Regions from separate parts of the Homo sapiens genome. Here regions 2 and 3 are each linked to region 1. Evidence: fine-mapped expression QTL. A gene starts in region 1. Each other region holds a variant in brackets. All regions are shown on one strand. Distances are from middle to middle. Region 1 holds the start of DLGAP3 (DLG associated protein 3). Region 2 has its middle 36 kb from the start of ZMYM4. Region 3 overlaps DLGAP3 (DLG associated protein 3).

What was found.
Region 2: its variant is fine-mapped to the expression of DLGAP3 in aorta (GTEx, PIP 0.98).
Region 3: its variant is fine-mapped to the expression of DLGAP3 in subcutaneous fat (GTEx, PIP above 0.99).

What each region holds. Positions count from the first base shown.
Region 1 is chr1:34,927,000-34,932,219 of GRCh38, reverse strand. It overlaps DLGAP3 (DLG associated protein 3), which reads left to right and starts at 2,570. Exons shown (of 12, transcript NM_001080418.3): 1 at 2,570-2,769. RefSeq lists silencers at 1,962-2,011, 2,992-3,061.
Region 2 is chr1:35,229,704-35,234,923 of GRCh38, reverse strand. No RefSeq gene overlaps it. Among named protein-coding and RNA genes, the nearest start is that of ZMYM4, 36 kb to the left of the region's middle. The variant C/T (reference allele first, on the strand shown) is at 3,060.
Region 3 is chr1:34,866,799-34,872,018 of GRCh38, reverse strand. DLGAP3 (DLG associated protein 3) reads left to right here. Exons shown (of 12, transcript NM_001080418.3): 9 at 2,930-3,414; 10 at 4,392-4,483; 11 at 4,828-4,971. Among named protein-coding and RNA genes, the nearest start is that of SMIM12, 9.7 kb to the right of the region's middle. The variant G/T (reference allele first, on the strand shown) is at 2,906.

The sequences.
Region 1 (5,220 bases):
GCCCTGATAGTAATTATTGGTTTACATCTCCATCTCCCTTATTAATCAGTTATTAATCACTGGATGGCTATGGGAGAACACTGTCTAAGGTAAGCCTGTCTGATTAACCTGTATGCCCCCAAGAGGCTAGCAAGGTGCCAGGTATAATCAGTAAAGGGTTGTTGAATGAACAAATGAAAATAACATTATGTTCTCAATTCTAAAATGCACCAACTCTAATAGCTTTAACAGAAAGGTAAGAAGAGCCATATTAAATGTCCCTGTTTATTGTAAGATGCTTTCCAGTTTCAGAATAGTTTACAAAATACAGGTCTTAGAACTGCGAAAACACGGTGGTGCTTTTTAACATCCTCTATCACGGCTGTTCTTTTTTTTTTTTTTTTTTTTTTTGAGACGGAGTTCCAGGCAGGAGTGCAATGGTGCAATCTCTGCTCACTGCAACCTCTGCCTCCCGGATTCAAGTGATTCGCCTGCCTCAGCCTCTGAGTAGCTGGGATTACAGGCGCCCAACACCACACCGGGCTAATTTTTGTATTTCGGGTAGAGACAGGGTTTCACCATGTTGGCCAGGCTGATCTCGAACTCCCGACCTCAGGTGATCCGTCTGCCTTAGCCTCCCAAAGTGCTGGGATTACAGGCGTGAGCCACTGTGCCCGGCCGTCAGCTCATCCTTTTTTTTTTTTTTCTTTAAGACTGAATCTGGCTCTGTTGCCCAGGCTGCAGTGTGGCACAGTCTCAGCTCACTGCAACCTGTGCCTCCCGGGTTCAAGCAATTCTCCTGCCTCAGCCTCCTGAGTAGCTGGGATTACAGGCACGTGCCACTGCACTCGGCTAATTTTTTGTAATTTTAGTAGAGACGGGATTTTACCATGTTGGCCAGGCTGGTGTTGAACTCCTGACCTCAGGTAATCCACCCGCCTTGGCCTCCCAAAGTGCTAGGATTATAAGCATGAGCCACTGCGCTCGGCCCAACGGCTGTTCTTATGCTCCACGGAAAGTGAGATGTTTCCTTCAGTTCTAAAGTGGGTTCCTGGGAACAACTTTCTTATTTTCATGACATCTGCTCTTGACTGAACCCTGGGCTGGAAATGGTCTGCAACCTCACTTCATGATTGAAGAGACAATGAACCGTTCTTGTGAGCAGCAGGGTAGGTGACCAATCTACTAGTCTCTTACCAGACTTCTAGGTATCCCTTGGGAAGAGGGCTCTCCAAGCCCCTTATGTTATTTAATGTAATGTGGCATCTTAAAACATCATCTCCCTGGGGAAAAGAGGTCTTGGCTCCCAGTTCTAGCTCTTCTGGGCCTTTGGCTTCTCCTTTCCGTGCCTCACTTTCCCCTTTATACAGGGAGGAGAGCCGGTGGCCCCACAAGGAAACAGAGAGCAGGGAGTTGTTGGGGTGCGGGGTGGGGGCCGTTGAATCAGAACAACTCCAAGGTATGTTCCTAGAGAGGTGGGCAGTCTCAAGCCTCCCAAGCCCACACCTCACCATCCCAAGCTTTCAAGACCGGAAAAGGTAGAGGAGGGAAGAGGGCTTTAAGGATGCCCACTGAACCTCCACCCCCAACTTTCAGCGCCGGAGGCAGTGTTTCCTCACACCTACCCTGGAAAGCCGGAATCCGGAGCCACCCCTTCCCCCACGTCTTCAGCCCCTCCCCCTGCGGCTTCCCCACCGTGGCCCCCTCCCCCCCATTACAGCATCGCTCTGGGCGCCAAGACGGATTCAAGCCAGGGGACTGCTGCAGTCCGCTCTCCGCCTCTCGGCTCCCGCAGCCTGTGTCCGGGCTCCGCAGCCTCCAGCTGTGCTTCGGACAGTCCCTTTCCCCCCACCCCGACCCCGCCATGGCACAATCCCAGGCTCAGGGCCCAGAGGCGGGCGGGCACAGTGGGCACGGGCGGGGGCCCAGCACAGGCGGCAGGTACAGCGGGGCTCTCCCTCCACACTGGGGATGCCTCGGCTGTGCGGACTGTGGGTGGGGGACGCCTGCCAGCGGCTCCGAGGCCGGGCACAGCGCCCCATCCTGGCAGGGGCTGGGGCCGAAGAGGGGGGCTCCCTGACCCCAAGCCAGGAGCTGAGGTCAGGCGGCCGACCGGGAAAGCCCGAAGGAGAGTCTCCTAAGCGGACGGGCCTGGGGGCTGTGTGTGACATTCAGGGCGTGACTGCCCCTCGGCGGGGGGCGAGACCCGGTCCGTGAGGCTGAGCTGGTCCCCGACCGCCCGCCCGCCGCCGGGCTTGGGTCCCTGTACCCAGGTCGGCTGTGCGTGGCCGTGACACTTCGGGTGCCTGTTCCTGGGTCCCCGGGGAGGGGGATCTCATTCCTGCCCCTACGCTGGGCGCCCCCAGCACCGTCGCTCAGCGAGGTGGGCGCTCCTCCGGGACCCCGGCGGCCGCCCGCGGGCGGCGACCTCGGCCCTCCTGGGTCCGCGCGGGGGCGGGGAGCTCGGTCCCCCTCCCTCTTCCTCTCCCTCTCCCTCTCCCTGCTCGGCTGCCCTGCGCGGGGGCGGGGGCGGGGGCGGAGCGCGCGGGCGGGATCCCCCCGCCTCCCCTTCCCGGTCCCCGGGAAATCCAGCCTCCGTGGCTTGGCCGCCTCCCGCTCCCGCGCCCGCTGCCGCTCGGCGCTCGCTTGGGGCTCCGCAGCCGGCGCGGCCCCTCAGCTGGGGGCTCCGCAGTGCCGGGCCCCGGTCCCTGCCCGCCTGCCCAACGCCGCAGCGCCCCCGGCCCGGGCCGCCGGCACCATGTAACCCGGCCGGAGCCCGAGCCGGGCCAGGTAAGCCGCGGGGAGGAGTGGGGACGGGGCCGCGCTCGCGGCTCCCTCTGCAGCGCCCCCCAGGCACGGCCCGGCTGCGGCCCCGGCGCCGCCCACGCCCCGGGCTCCGGCGCTCGGCTCCCGGCCCCGGGAGGGGGGAGGGGCTGGGCCTCCTCAGCTGCCCCCGCTCCTGCCCCGGCCTGGCTGCCCGCGGGCCCGACCCGAGGGGCGGGCAGGGGACCACGCGGACCGCGGACCCACGCTCCCGGTCAGGGCCGCGGGGACAGGCCAGCCCCGGCCCAGCCCTCGCCCGGCTGGAGGCTCGGGTCTGGGAGGGAGTAGCCAGCTGGTTGTGGGGGAAGTCGTGGTGCTGGGGAGATCCGGAGAGAAGTTTCCTCTGCAGGTGTGTGAATGTGAGTGCGTGTCGCTGTGTGTCTGTGCCGAGTGTGTCACTGTGTGGGTCTGTGGGCGATTGTGTGTGCCGGTGAGTGTATGCCGTGAGTGTGTGCGTGTGTCACTGTGGGCGAGAGTGTGTGTGCATGTTAGTGGGTGTATGCAGCGTGAGTGTGGAGGGTGGTACTGTGTATGCATCTGTGGACATGTGAGTGAATGAGTGTGTGTTGTCCCCATGTGTGCCTGTGTGTGTCTGTGAGTGTGTGAATGGATGTGTGTGCCGGCGTGACTGTCTCTGTGAGTGGGTCCCGGTATCTGCCCTGTGTGACTGTGTGTGTGTGTGTGTGCGTGTGCGCGCGCGTGCGTTGGCTGTGTGAGAGAGAGTGTATCTGAGCGCGGTTCACTCTGAATCACCCACACCTGGGCTCTGTCCCCCCCACTGTCCCCCCATTCCTGGTGGGATATGGGACAGGGAGATGAGACTTTTCCGAGGTCAGATCATTCCCCACTTCTCTGGGGACCCCTGACCCTTGATTCAGGCAAGAGCTTTGTGGCACTCCCCAGCTTGGTCTCTACCTTCACCTACCTCAGGGGGTGCCCTCTGGGATGTTGCTGGTCGTGTCCTTCCTGCATGCTAAGGCCCCTGGTGGGTGGGAGGGGGGATCTGGGGCGAGCTGGAGTATGTGCCTGCGTGTGCTGCTTCTCCTTTTGGGGGCCTGGGAACTTGTGTCATCTCAATAATGTTTCACCAAGGGCCTTTTAGAGCTAGGAGATGAGGAGGCCAGGTGGAAGCGTCTGCCCTGTTAGTCATCAGAGCAGGTGGCGCTCTCCCAGACTTCCAAGTCCCAAACCTTCAAGTTCTGGGTTATTGGTTCAGTCCACTGGCTCCGGGTGGGTCTGTACTAAGCTCTTTGAAGTAATAATAATAAAATAATGCCCTCATATTAGTTCAGGGCTTTTGAAAATGCTGCCCTCTGAACTCTTCTTATTTCCCCAACAGCCTTGGGAAGCAGGCAGGACAGGTATCACGTTAAGCCATATGCAACTGCAATATTCAACTGTTTTTATTTAACCTACAAAAACAGCAATTTCATATGGTTCAACCAAATATAATGCCGATTTACAGATGAAGATGTTGAGGCTTGAGAAATGAATTGCATTTTCCACAACCACACACTGCTAGTTAGTGGTACAGAAAGACCTCAGCCCAGGTCTTTCAGTGACCCAAAGAACTGGGCTGGGCCAAGGTTAGAGAGTGGTACTTCCTGGTGTGCTCTCTCTGACCCTGGGGGCACTGCCCTCTACCACTGCGCAGCATTCCCTGAATGCTGGGGCTACTTCTGCACCCAGCTGCCAATGCCTAAAAGAGTGGGGGGTGGGGGGAGAAGAGAGGAGGGAGGGGAGGGAGAGGCTTCGTGAGTTGGCAGTGAATCAGGGTCTAAAAAGGGAGCTGGGAGGGCTAGGGTGGCAGGTGTTTCTAAAAGGAACATGAACATAGGATGAACGGCCTCACATACAGCCCCCGCATCTCCCACCCGCCACTGCCCCACTGATCTGGCAGGCAGGGCCCGCTGAGTTTTGTGCCAGGGGGCTCACATCCAACGAGTGAGCTTGTATGTAGCTGTAGAATGATGGCCAGGAGAGGAACCTTAGTATTGACTTGGTCCAACCTCTTCATTACAAACCGGGGACTCTGAAGCCCCAAGAAGGGAGGGGACTTGCCCAAGGTCACACAACGAATTTGTGAGTTCCTAGGCTAATCTTAGACGAGGAACTTTGCAATCCTCCATGTTGCCTTCTATTCCTGAACTCTCCCCACCCCCATCAGAGCTGAGTACAGGGGATTTTTGGAAAAGAAATGAAGACTCAAAAAGCCTAAGGCTGTACATCTTTCAGCTTGGGACTCCTTGCCAAAGAGAGGGCGCTACAGATGTCGCTGGGGATAGGGATTCCTAGCCACACCCACCACCGAGGTAGGCCATGGGCTTGTCTTGTCTTGATTCCTGCTGGTGAGGGGCTGGAGCTGCTACAGGCCAGACTCCCAGACTTTCTCATGTTAGTACCTGCTTTCAGCGGCTG
Region 2 (5,220 bases), 300 kb before region 1:
TTATTTTATTTTATTTTTTGAGACAGAGTTTCACTCTTGTTGCCTAGGCTGGAGTGCAATGGTGTGATCTCAGCTCACTGCAACATCCGCCTGCCAGGTTCAAGTGATTCTCCTATCTCAGCCTCCCGTGTAGCTGGGATTCCAGTCATCCACCACCATGCCTGGCTAAGTTTTTGTATTTTTAGCACAGACAGGGTTTCACCACGTTGGTCAGGTTGGTCTCGAACCTCTGACCTCAGGTGATCCACCCGCCTCAGCCTCCCAAAGTGCTGGGATTACAGGCATGAGCTATTGTGCCCAGCCAGCCAGGCTGGTCTTGAACTCCTGACCTCAAGTGATCCACCTGCCTCGGCCTCCTAAAGTGCTGGGATTAGAGGAGTGAGCCACCGTGCCTGGCCAACAAATTGTAGTTTCTTAAAGGGTAGTTTCAATGTGGAATCTGAAACCACACCAATGAATTTTTGGTATTCTGTTACATCAAAATCCCTCAGTCTGTCTTGTAACGAGTGACTGTTCTACCTATGAATAATTTTGTAACACCATGCATTTGGAAAATATTGATTCACGAAGTTATGCCAATCTTTCAAATAAAAGATCTCATTCATTAATATCATTATAAACATTAAAAAATCCCATTCATAATATCACAACCAATCTTATAATAAAAACCTTCAGTATTGCAAAGTTGTCAAGCTCAAGATGGCAAATACAACTTTTCCAAAATTCTCATTTTATGTGAAAGCTTGGATTTATTATTGGCAGTGAATACTATCGGTTGTTTTCCATGAATTAATGGTCTCACTTCACTCACTTTTGAGAAAAATGCCAAATACCCGTCTGTATAACCATAGTTTATCTGTCAGTCATTCTTCCAAGCAAAAATGGCATTTTATGAAAAAAAGGGCCCAGCAAGGTGGCTCATGCTTGTAATCCCAGAACTTTGGGAGGCCAAGGCCAGTGGATCACCTGAGGTTAGGAGTTTGAGACCAGCCTGGCCAACATGGTGAAACCCTGTCTCTACTAAAAATACAAAAATTAGCTGGGCATGGTAGCGGGAGCCTGTAATCCCAGCTACTTGGGAGGCTGAGGCTGGAGACTCTCCTGAACCCAGGAGGCAGAGGTTACAGTGACCGGAGATCGCGTCATTGCACTCCAGCCTGGGTGACAAGAGTGAAACTCCGTCTCAAAAAAAAAAAAAAAAGAAAAGAAAAGAAAAAAAAAAGGAGCTATTCTGTTCCTAGAACTAGATCCAATCCCACAAGTGCTTTTCCTTGAAGTAGTTATTATGCTTGGATGTACAGCAGAAGTGCTTTATTAAGAAGACATGTCTTGGCCAGGCGTGGTGGCTCACGCCTATAATCCCAGCACTTTGGGAAGCCAAGGCAGGTGAATCACCTGAGGTCAGGAGTTTGAGACAGGCCTGGCCAACATGGTGAAACCCCGTTTCTACTGAAAATACAAAAATTAGTTGAGCGTGGTGGTGCATGCCTGTAGTCCCAGCTACTCAGGAGGCTGAGGCAGGAGAATTGCTTGAATCTGGGAGGCGGAGGTTGCAGTCAACCAGGATTGAGCCACTGCACTCCAGCCTGGGTGACAGAGTGAAACTCAGTCTCAAAAAAAAAAAAAAAAAAAAAAAGACATGCCTTGAGGGTTGTGATTTGATAAAATTAAAATTAATAATTTTTACTGCTTCACCAAGAACATTTGTTTTACTGTGTCAGTAAAGGTGTCGGTAAAGAGTGTAATGAGGGCCGGCCGCAGTGGCTCATGCCTGTAATCCCAGCACTTTGGTAGGCCAAGGCGGGCAGATCACAAGGTCAGGAGATCGAGACCATCCTGGCTAACAGGGTGAAACCTCGTCTCTACTAAAATACAAAAATTAGCCAGGCATGGTGGCGGGCGCCTGTAGTCCCAGCTACTCGGGAGGCTGAGGCAGGAGAATGGTGTGAACCTGGGAGGCGGAGCTTGTAGTGAGCCGAGATCACGTGCCACTGCACTGCAGCCTGGGCGACAGAGTGAGACTCCATCTCAAAAAAAAAAAGAGTGCAATGAGTACAAGGTCAGCCTGGCACCACTGTGTTAAGTAAGGTCCAGCAGATAAACCTGCCATTGATTTGCAGCATCAATGCAAATGTCAGCCCAGTTAAAAAGGCTAATAACAGAATAGAAAATGGTGTACCTGCTATGGAAAACAGTATGGTGGTTCCTCCAAAAATTAAAAACGAAAATACTGTATGATCCAGCAATCCCACTGCTGAGTATATACTCAAAGAAATTGAAAGCAGGATCTTAAAGAGATATACGCATACCCATGTTCATAGCAGCATTATTTACAATAGCCAAGAAGTGGAAGCAATCCAAATGTTCATCACAGATAAATGGGTAAACAAAATGTGGTGTATATATATGCAATGGAATATTACTCAGACTTTAAAAAGAAGGAATTTTTTTTCTTTTTTTTTTTTTTTTTTAAACAGAGTCTCGCTCTGTCACCCAGGATAGAGTGCAGTGGTGCCATCTCGGCTGATAGCAACCTCTGCTTCCCAGGTTCCAGTGATTCTCCTGCTTCAGCCTCCCAAGTAGCTGAGATTACAGGCACCTGCCACCATGTCCTGCTAATTTTTGTGTTTTTAGTAGAGACAGGGTTTCTCCACGTTGGCCAGGCTGGCCTCGAACTCCTGGCCTCAGGTTATCCACCCGCCTCGGCCTCCCAAAGTGCTGGGATTACAGGCATGAGCCACTGTGTCTGGCCTAAAAAGGAAATTCTGACACATGCTACAACATGGATGAATCTTGAGGACATTATGCTAAGTGAAATAAGCCAGCTACAAAAAGACAGCTTCTATATGATTCCAATTATATGAGATTTTTTTAAAAAAGTTTATCAATCTCAAATAAACTATATATCTGTATATGCTGTATATCCAAGCATAATAAAAAAAGTCTGTAATCCTAGCACTTTAAGAAGCCGCGGCAGGTGGATTGCTTGAAGTCAGGAGTTCGAGACCAGCCTGACCCACATGGTGAAACCCCATCTCTACTAAAAATACAAAAACTTG[C/T]CAGTCGTGGTGGCAGGCACCTGTAATCTCAGCTACTTGGGAGGCAGAGGCAGAAGAATCACTTGAACTTGGGAGGCAGAGGTTGCAGTGAGCCAAGATCACATCACTGCACTCCAGTCTGGGCAACAATGTAAGACTGTCTCAAAACAAAACAAAACAAAACAAAACACAAATGTAGCAAGGAAGCCCCAAACCAGAATAGGTTCAGAAAGGCTCCTTTTAAAAGGTGTCCAAAGTAGTAAAATACCCAGAAAGATAAAGTAGGATTGTGGCTGCCAGAGGCTTGCAGAGGGGGAAAATGAAGAGTTGTTTAATGGGTATAGATTTTCAGTTTTGGAAGATGAAAAAAGTTCTAGAGATCTGTTGTGCAATAATGTGAATCTACTTGACACTACTGAATTATACACTTAAAAATGTACAAACGTAGGCTGGATGCAGTGGTGCATATATCATTATAGATGTTTAAAAGTGTTATTCATTAATATCACAATCAACCTTATTAATATAATAAAAACCTTCAGTATCACAAAGCTGTCAACCTCATGATGGCAAATACAACTTTTCCAAACTTCTAATTTTATGTGAAAGCTTGGATTTATTATTGGCAACAAATACTGTCTGTAGTCCCAGCTACGCGGGAGGCTGAGGCAGGAAGATCACTTGAGGCCAGAAGTTTGGAGCTGTAGTGCACTATGATCATGCCTGTACCCTAGCTTAGTAAACATAGCAAGACCCCATCTCTAAAAAAATAAATAAATAAAATTTAAAATTTTTCAATGTACAAAGATGGTACATTTTGTTATTTTTATCACAATTTTTAAAGGCAAATAAGGTAGTATAACTATTATCATCATTACTGTAAGAATAGTTTTGACCTCATAAACCCTCTGAAAAGGTCTCAAGGATTCTCCAGAATCAGGAATCCTTGAGAATCATTGCTCTAAACCAGGCATTGACATAATATTTTTGTCCTCATTTCTGCTTATATATTTCCTGCATTCAGAAACAAGTCTACACTCCACAACATGGCCTTCAAGACCATTCATGATCTGGCGGTATTACCCCTTTTTGTTCTGCCTTCTCTGTGTTCTAACCACAATGACATTTGTTGTACTCCGCACACAAAATACACTTTCACACTTCTATGATTTTGCTCAAGCCACATTCTGGGAACCCCTTTTCATTCTGTTAAAATCCTACTTGTTGGGCCAGGCGCAGTGGCTCACACCTATAATTTCAGCACTTTGGGAGGCCAAGACAGGCGGATCACCTGAGGTCAGGAGTTCAAGATCAGCCTGGCCAACATGGTGAAACCCCATCTCTACTAAAAATACAAAAATTAGCAAGGCGTGATGGTGGGTGCCTGAATCGCTTGGTCTCAGGAGGCGAAGGTTGCAGTGAGCTGAGATGGCGCCACTGCACACCAGCCTGGGTGACAGAACAAAACTCTGTCTCAAAAAACAAAACAAAAAAAATCCTACTTGTCCTTTAGGATTCAGCACAAACACCTGTCCCTCACCAAGTCAGGATAAAATGTCCCTTTCTGTAGGCTCTCTGGGCATTTTATTTGTCCCTTTACCTTTCTACTTATTTTCTTTGTTCTCTATTTAGTCATTTGTGTGTCTGTGTTTTCACTAGATTGTAAAAATTCCCAGGGTGATTTTTACAGGAAACAGGTAACCTGTTTCCCTTGCTGCATACTTAGCACAGTGCCTCCTTGGGTGAGCTGGGCAAGTTAGCTGTTCTCCTAACTTCTGTTTCCTCATCTGTAAAGTAGGAACAACGACACCCATCTTGTAAGTTCCTGGGAAGATTCAGTAAGATCATATCTGTTGATGTCTAGCCTAGTTCCAGGGACATTGTAGGACTGAGGTGGGAGAATAGGGTCTGGAGACAGGAAGCCTAAGGCCAACCCATGGTTGCCTTCTTGGAAGTGGACTAAGAGGAAAACCCCACCTTTCCACAACAAAGTAATGAGGGACCAAATGTCCCCCACTTTCTGAACCTCTCCTCCCCTACATCCTGAACAGGAATGTCTGTAATTGGTCTATTCTGAAACCTTCATTTGCATATGCATCACAGGCAGGATGCCTCTGATTGGTCCTGGGCAGAATCCTCCCTCTGACTGGTCCTGGGCAGAAGTCTTCATTTGTGTAGGATA
Region 3 (5,220 bases), 60 kb after region 1:
ATGCCACTTGCACAGGGATAAGCGCCTCCTGCTTGTGCTGTACACATCTCTGGCTGCTGGCCAGGAGCGTTGGTGAGGACTGTGCTTCTGGTCATCCCATCAGCTCCTCGACTTCCTTGGTCTCCTTTGAGGCAGACATGTGAGAGAGCTCACTGAGGCAGTGGCTTGAGAAGCATGCAGCCTGGGGCACTTGGTCCTTCTGTTCCCGGCAGTATGGCTGTTTCCATCGCGATGGAATGGGATCCTCTCAAGACATCTCAGAGGACAGGCGGAAGGCAGCGAACATGGCAGTGCCGAAGGACACAGCTGTGTTTAGCAGGGGCGACAGGAAAGCACGCAGGTGTGGCAGATCATCAGGCACGTATTTATTGGAGCAACCCCCTCCTTTACCTTTGTGGTTTGCAACAGCTGTAGCTCTGAAGGAGCCACAAGCTAACTAGAGCACAAAGGCACAAAAACATTCAAAGTAAGTCAAGATGCATCCTAACAGTGCAGCTAGACATTCAAGACTCTCACCAGAAAGAGAACAATCTGCCTGAACGGCAGGGCTGCCTCTGAAGCCAGGAGGGCTGCTGAGGGAGGTGTGGTACTCAGGAGTGGTCTTGTGGGCAGTGGAGGGTGAAACAGGTAAAACAGGACTTAAGGAGGGAATGGACAAGGAGCCAGGAGGAGGAAGGCCATTTCAGGCAGAGGAGTAGCGTGTGCAAAGGCTTGGAGTCAGGATCGCTTATAGTCGATTCAAGGAACAAGGAGAATGTGGGGGAGATGAGGTTGAAGAGGAGGACTGTGTCCAGGACATCAGGGCCTCAGATAATGCTGGTACAGGAAGTCTGAACTTTGTCTTGTTGGTAGTAGGGGGCTGTGGAAGGGTTTTGAGCAGGGGAATGACTTGGCAGAGCTCAGCTTTAGGAAGACTATTCCAGTCTTGGGTGGACTGGGGAGGGCCCCAGATCTTAAAATATGCAAAATATAATTTTAGAGAGAGGAACTACCTTGGCAATTACTTATCTATTTCTATAATTGTATATATGTGTGTATTTTTAGATGTATATGTGTGTATATTTATATCTAATACATATATTTTAAATACATACACACATACACATTGGATGACCTAGATGGAGGGTGAGTGACAAAGGCACACAGTGAGAAAGCCAGCATTAGAACTCAGAGCTAACTCCTGGCCCCGTGCTCTTCCTCTGCAGGGTACTGATGGAGGCAGAGGTATCTGAAAGGAGGCCAGTCTAATCATCAGGGCAGATGGTGATGCAAACCTTGACCAGGGCAGGACAGGGCAGACACTGAGGGGAAGACTGTGTGGGAGGCAATGAGGATATGTTCTCTCTCCTTCTCCCTCTCTGGGTGGGGGTTGGGACATAGGGCTCGTTGGAGACTGCACATGAGTGCATCTCTCCTTCCTGGGTCCTGCAGCATCCTTCTGGGCCTGGTTTCTATGGCAACAGGCTCCCAGCAGGCAGCCTGCCAGCTGGAGAGAAGTAGGCAGGCAGGCAGGGAGAGAAGGCCTGGGCAGCAAGAGAAAGGCTGAAGTTGCGGGGGTTGGGAGAGTCTCTTGGGGAGGTGGAGGGACCCTAGAGCTGGGCCCACAATCCCTTCTGACCATGTAGGGGTGGAGGTAGCTCAGGACACACAGGCTTTTCTTTTGTGGTCCTTGAATTTCCAAACCTTGATCTTCTGTTTATCCCCCACCTCCCACATCTCCTGACTCCCACTTCTTAAAGTATTGCCTGGTCCCAACCTCATGCATCTTAAGCGGCCACTGACTTCTTTATAGAAAAGAACTCTGAATTCAGGGAAAAAATGAAAACGGCCAGTTGACTTTTTGGTTTGCATAAGATTTGCATATTATTAACTCAAAGACAAGAAATTTCCAGGCCCTATGTCATTCCTGCAAACAACTTAATTCAGCTCCACTGGCACTGACTTACTGTGTCTGGCCAGGCTCTGGGCTGAGCCATCGGGGTCCCTAGAGAAGTCCTCCCAGCTGCAGGCCCACTCCACCTCCAGCTGCTCCAAGGCATTTCTTCCTGTGATGTTCTAGCAGCTGGTGCAGTGGGAAGTGCTTGGACTGTGGAGCCCAGCAGCGCTGAGTCCAAATCCTGGCTCTGCTACTTTGAAGCTGGGTTTACTTAGTTTACTCATCTCTAGGTAGAGCTGAGGACACTCTAGTGCAGCTGGTGTAAACTAGCATAGACATAGAATTTGTTAAAATATTGAAATACTTCGGCCAGGCGTGGTGGCTCACACCTGTAATCCCAGCACGTTGGGAGGCCAAGGCGGGTGGATAACCTGAGGTCGGGAGTTCGAGACCAGCCTGACCAACATGGAGAAACCCTGTCTCTTCCAAAAAGAGACAAAAGGCGCATGCCTGTAATCCCAGTTACTCGGGAGGCTGAAGCAGGAGAATCGCTTGAACCCGGGAGGCGGAGGTTGCGGTGAGCCGAGATCGCGCCATTGCACTCCAGCCTGGGCAACAAGAGCAAAACTCCATCTCCAAAAAAAAAAAAAAAAAAAAAAAAATTGAAATATCTTCTGCCTTCACTGGTAAAGAGCCACCACCCTGGCTCCTCCCTGACCCCTCTAGCCCACCCCACAATCTAGCCTCTCCAGGGCACTGCTGCAGCATTTTGGTCTGTGCCTGCTCTGCCTGGTATATGCCAGCATCTGCTCTGTCCATGGACTGAACTGGTTGCTAAATAGCTTGGATATCACCCCTATCTAGAGGCAGTGCAATAGGTAGGTATATTATGTACGTAGCTGTTGCAAGGACCAATATATTTAAAGTGCATAGGTTAATGTCCATCACTTTGTAGGTTCCCTTTCTCATTCCCTTCCTTTTTTTTGCTTGGGGTGGGGGTGAGAGCTGGCATGAGCCTGGGCAATGGGG[G/T]ATGACAGCCACCCCTCTCCCCAGGCGAGCAAGGTTCAAGCGCTCCAATAGTGTGACGGCTGGCGTGCAGGCAGACCTGGAGCTGGAGGGCCTGGCAGGCCTGGCCACGGTGGCCACAGAAGACAAGGCCCTGCAGTTTGGACGCTCCTTCCAGAGGCACGCCTCTGAGCCCCAGCCTGGGCCCCGGGCCCCCACCTACTCAGTCTTCCGCACGGTCCACACGCAGGGCCAGTGGGCCTACCGCGAGGGCTACCCACTGCCGTACGAGCCGCCGGCCACCGATGGGTCGCCCGGCCCTGCCCCCGCCCCCACCCCCGGCCCTGGGGCCGGCCGCCGTGACTCCTGGATAGAGCGCGGTTCACGTAGCCTCCCCGACTCAGGCCGCGCATCCCCCTGCCCACGCGACGGCGAGTGGTTCATCAAGATGCTGCGGGCAGAGGTGGAGAAGCTGGAGCACTGGTGCCAGCAGATGGAGCGTGAGGCGGAGGACTATGAGCTACCCGAGGAGAGTGAGTCACGGCATCGGAACAAGGGGACTCTGGGGACCATGGCCTCGTGTGTGCTCAGGAGACCCTGATGGGGGTGGCTGGGGCTGCAGTGTAACAGGAGGCCCCTTCGGTTGGTGCCTCACTGGTCTTCTGCACTGGAGCGTGGCGGGTCAACATCGGCAGCAAGACATGCTGGGAGCTCTTGAAAGGGAGCAGGGTGCACATGGTGCAGCTTTAGAGGCCAGGGCTGGGACTGCAGACACTGCAGGCCAAAGGGCTGGGCCTTCTATGGATGGCTGCTAGTCCAAATCACCAAGTTTATGGGGACTAAGGGAACTCCGTTCAGATCTGGACTGGTGTGGGGATCCAGGTGGTGCGACCAAGATTACAGAGAGGGAGGCAGTTCACAATGTCAGATCCTGTCTGAGGCACAGAAGAGGGAGATTCAGCCAGGGAGATGTGGCCCTGGCCCGAGGGAGAGCATGGCCCTTCCTGTAAGTCAGATCCACTGGGAGACACAGTCTTACCCCAGAATCTCTGAGTTGAGGGGACAGTGGCTATGAAGATGTGTTATGTACATGAAATTACTTGGTCATTCTTAAAGAGCCAAGGAGTCTTGCATGCACTGGGGAGTGATGAACAAAGCTTAGCCAGTGGGTGGTCATTGAGCTAATGCCCTGGCCAAGGCTATAGGGCTAGGCTGGGGCTGGTTTCCGTCTGTTCTCTGATACGGGAGGGAGAAAGGATAAAGAAGGATGAGCACTCAAGAAATGTAGGCTGTATGAAGGAGGGAACATCAGTGTCTGAGGATACAGTCTTGGTGTAGTGGAGCGAGAACTTGTTAGGAACTTGAGGATGGGATGGGGCTGGGGCTGGAGGAGACTGATGGATACACAGTGCCAAGCAACCGAGGGGTCAGCGTCATTCAGGGCAGACTTCGTGGAGGCTGGGGAAGGAGATGCATCATTTCCCTCCCTGAATTTCCTTCTGCTTTCTAGTCCTGGAGAAGATCCGCAGTGCTGTGGGCAGCACACAACTTCTCCTGTCCCAGAAGGTTCAGCAGTTCTTCCGGCTGTGTCAGCAAAGCATGGTGAGTGCCCATAGTAGTAGATCCTACCAGATACATGTGACCCAGAGTGTGTGTGTGCTGGAGGTGAGACAGGCAGGTGACCCAGAGTGAGTGTGTACCAGAGGTGAGACCAGGCCTGCATGCCTTCTGGGGTAGCTGTGAGTCTTGTGCCTGGAGGTAGGACCAGGTGTTTGTGCACAAGAAGGGGAGTCCTGGGCTCGCTCTTGTCCCCCTGTCTCCCAGCCCCCACCCACTCTCCCAGGCTGAGCTTCCTGGCAGTAAGGGTGGATAGGACTTTCTCTTGTCCTGGCTGGGGCTCAGACCTCCTTGACCAATCACTTTCCCTCCATCTTCCTCTGTTGCAGGATCCCACTGCGTTCCCTGTGCCCACCTTCCAGGACCTGGCGGGTTTCTGGGACCTCCTACAGCTCTCCATCGAGGATGTGACCCTCAAGTTCCTGGAGCTACAGCAACTCAAGGCCAACAGCTGGAAACTCCTGGAGCCTAAGGTGGGGCTGGGGTGCCTTCAGGCAAAGAGGCCAGACTCTGGGAAATTCCCCTCCCCAGAGAGGTGGAGGGTGGGACGAACAAGGGGGCAGGGGAAGGGATCCATGGGCAGCAAGGGCAGCCTTGGACAGGTGATAGGTGACCATCCCCTTCCAGAGTGACCACGCTCGTGGCCACTGCCGTCTGCTTGGCCCCAGTGCTCATCACTGCTTGAGCTGCCAGAACCCCAAGGCTTCCTCAGCGCGGGGGAG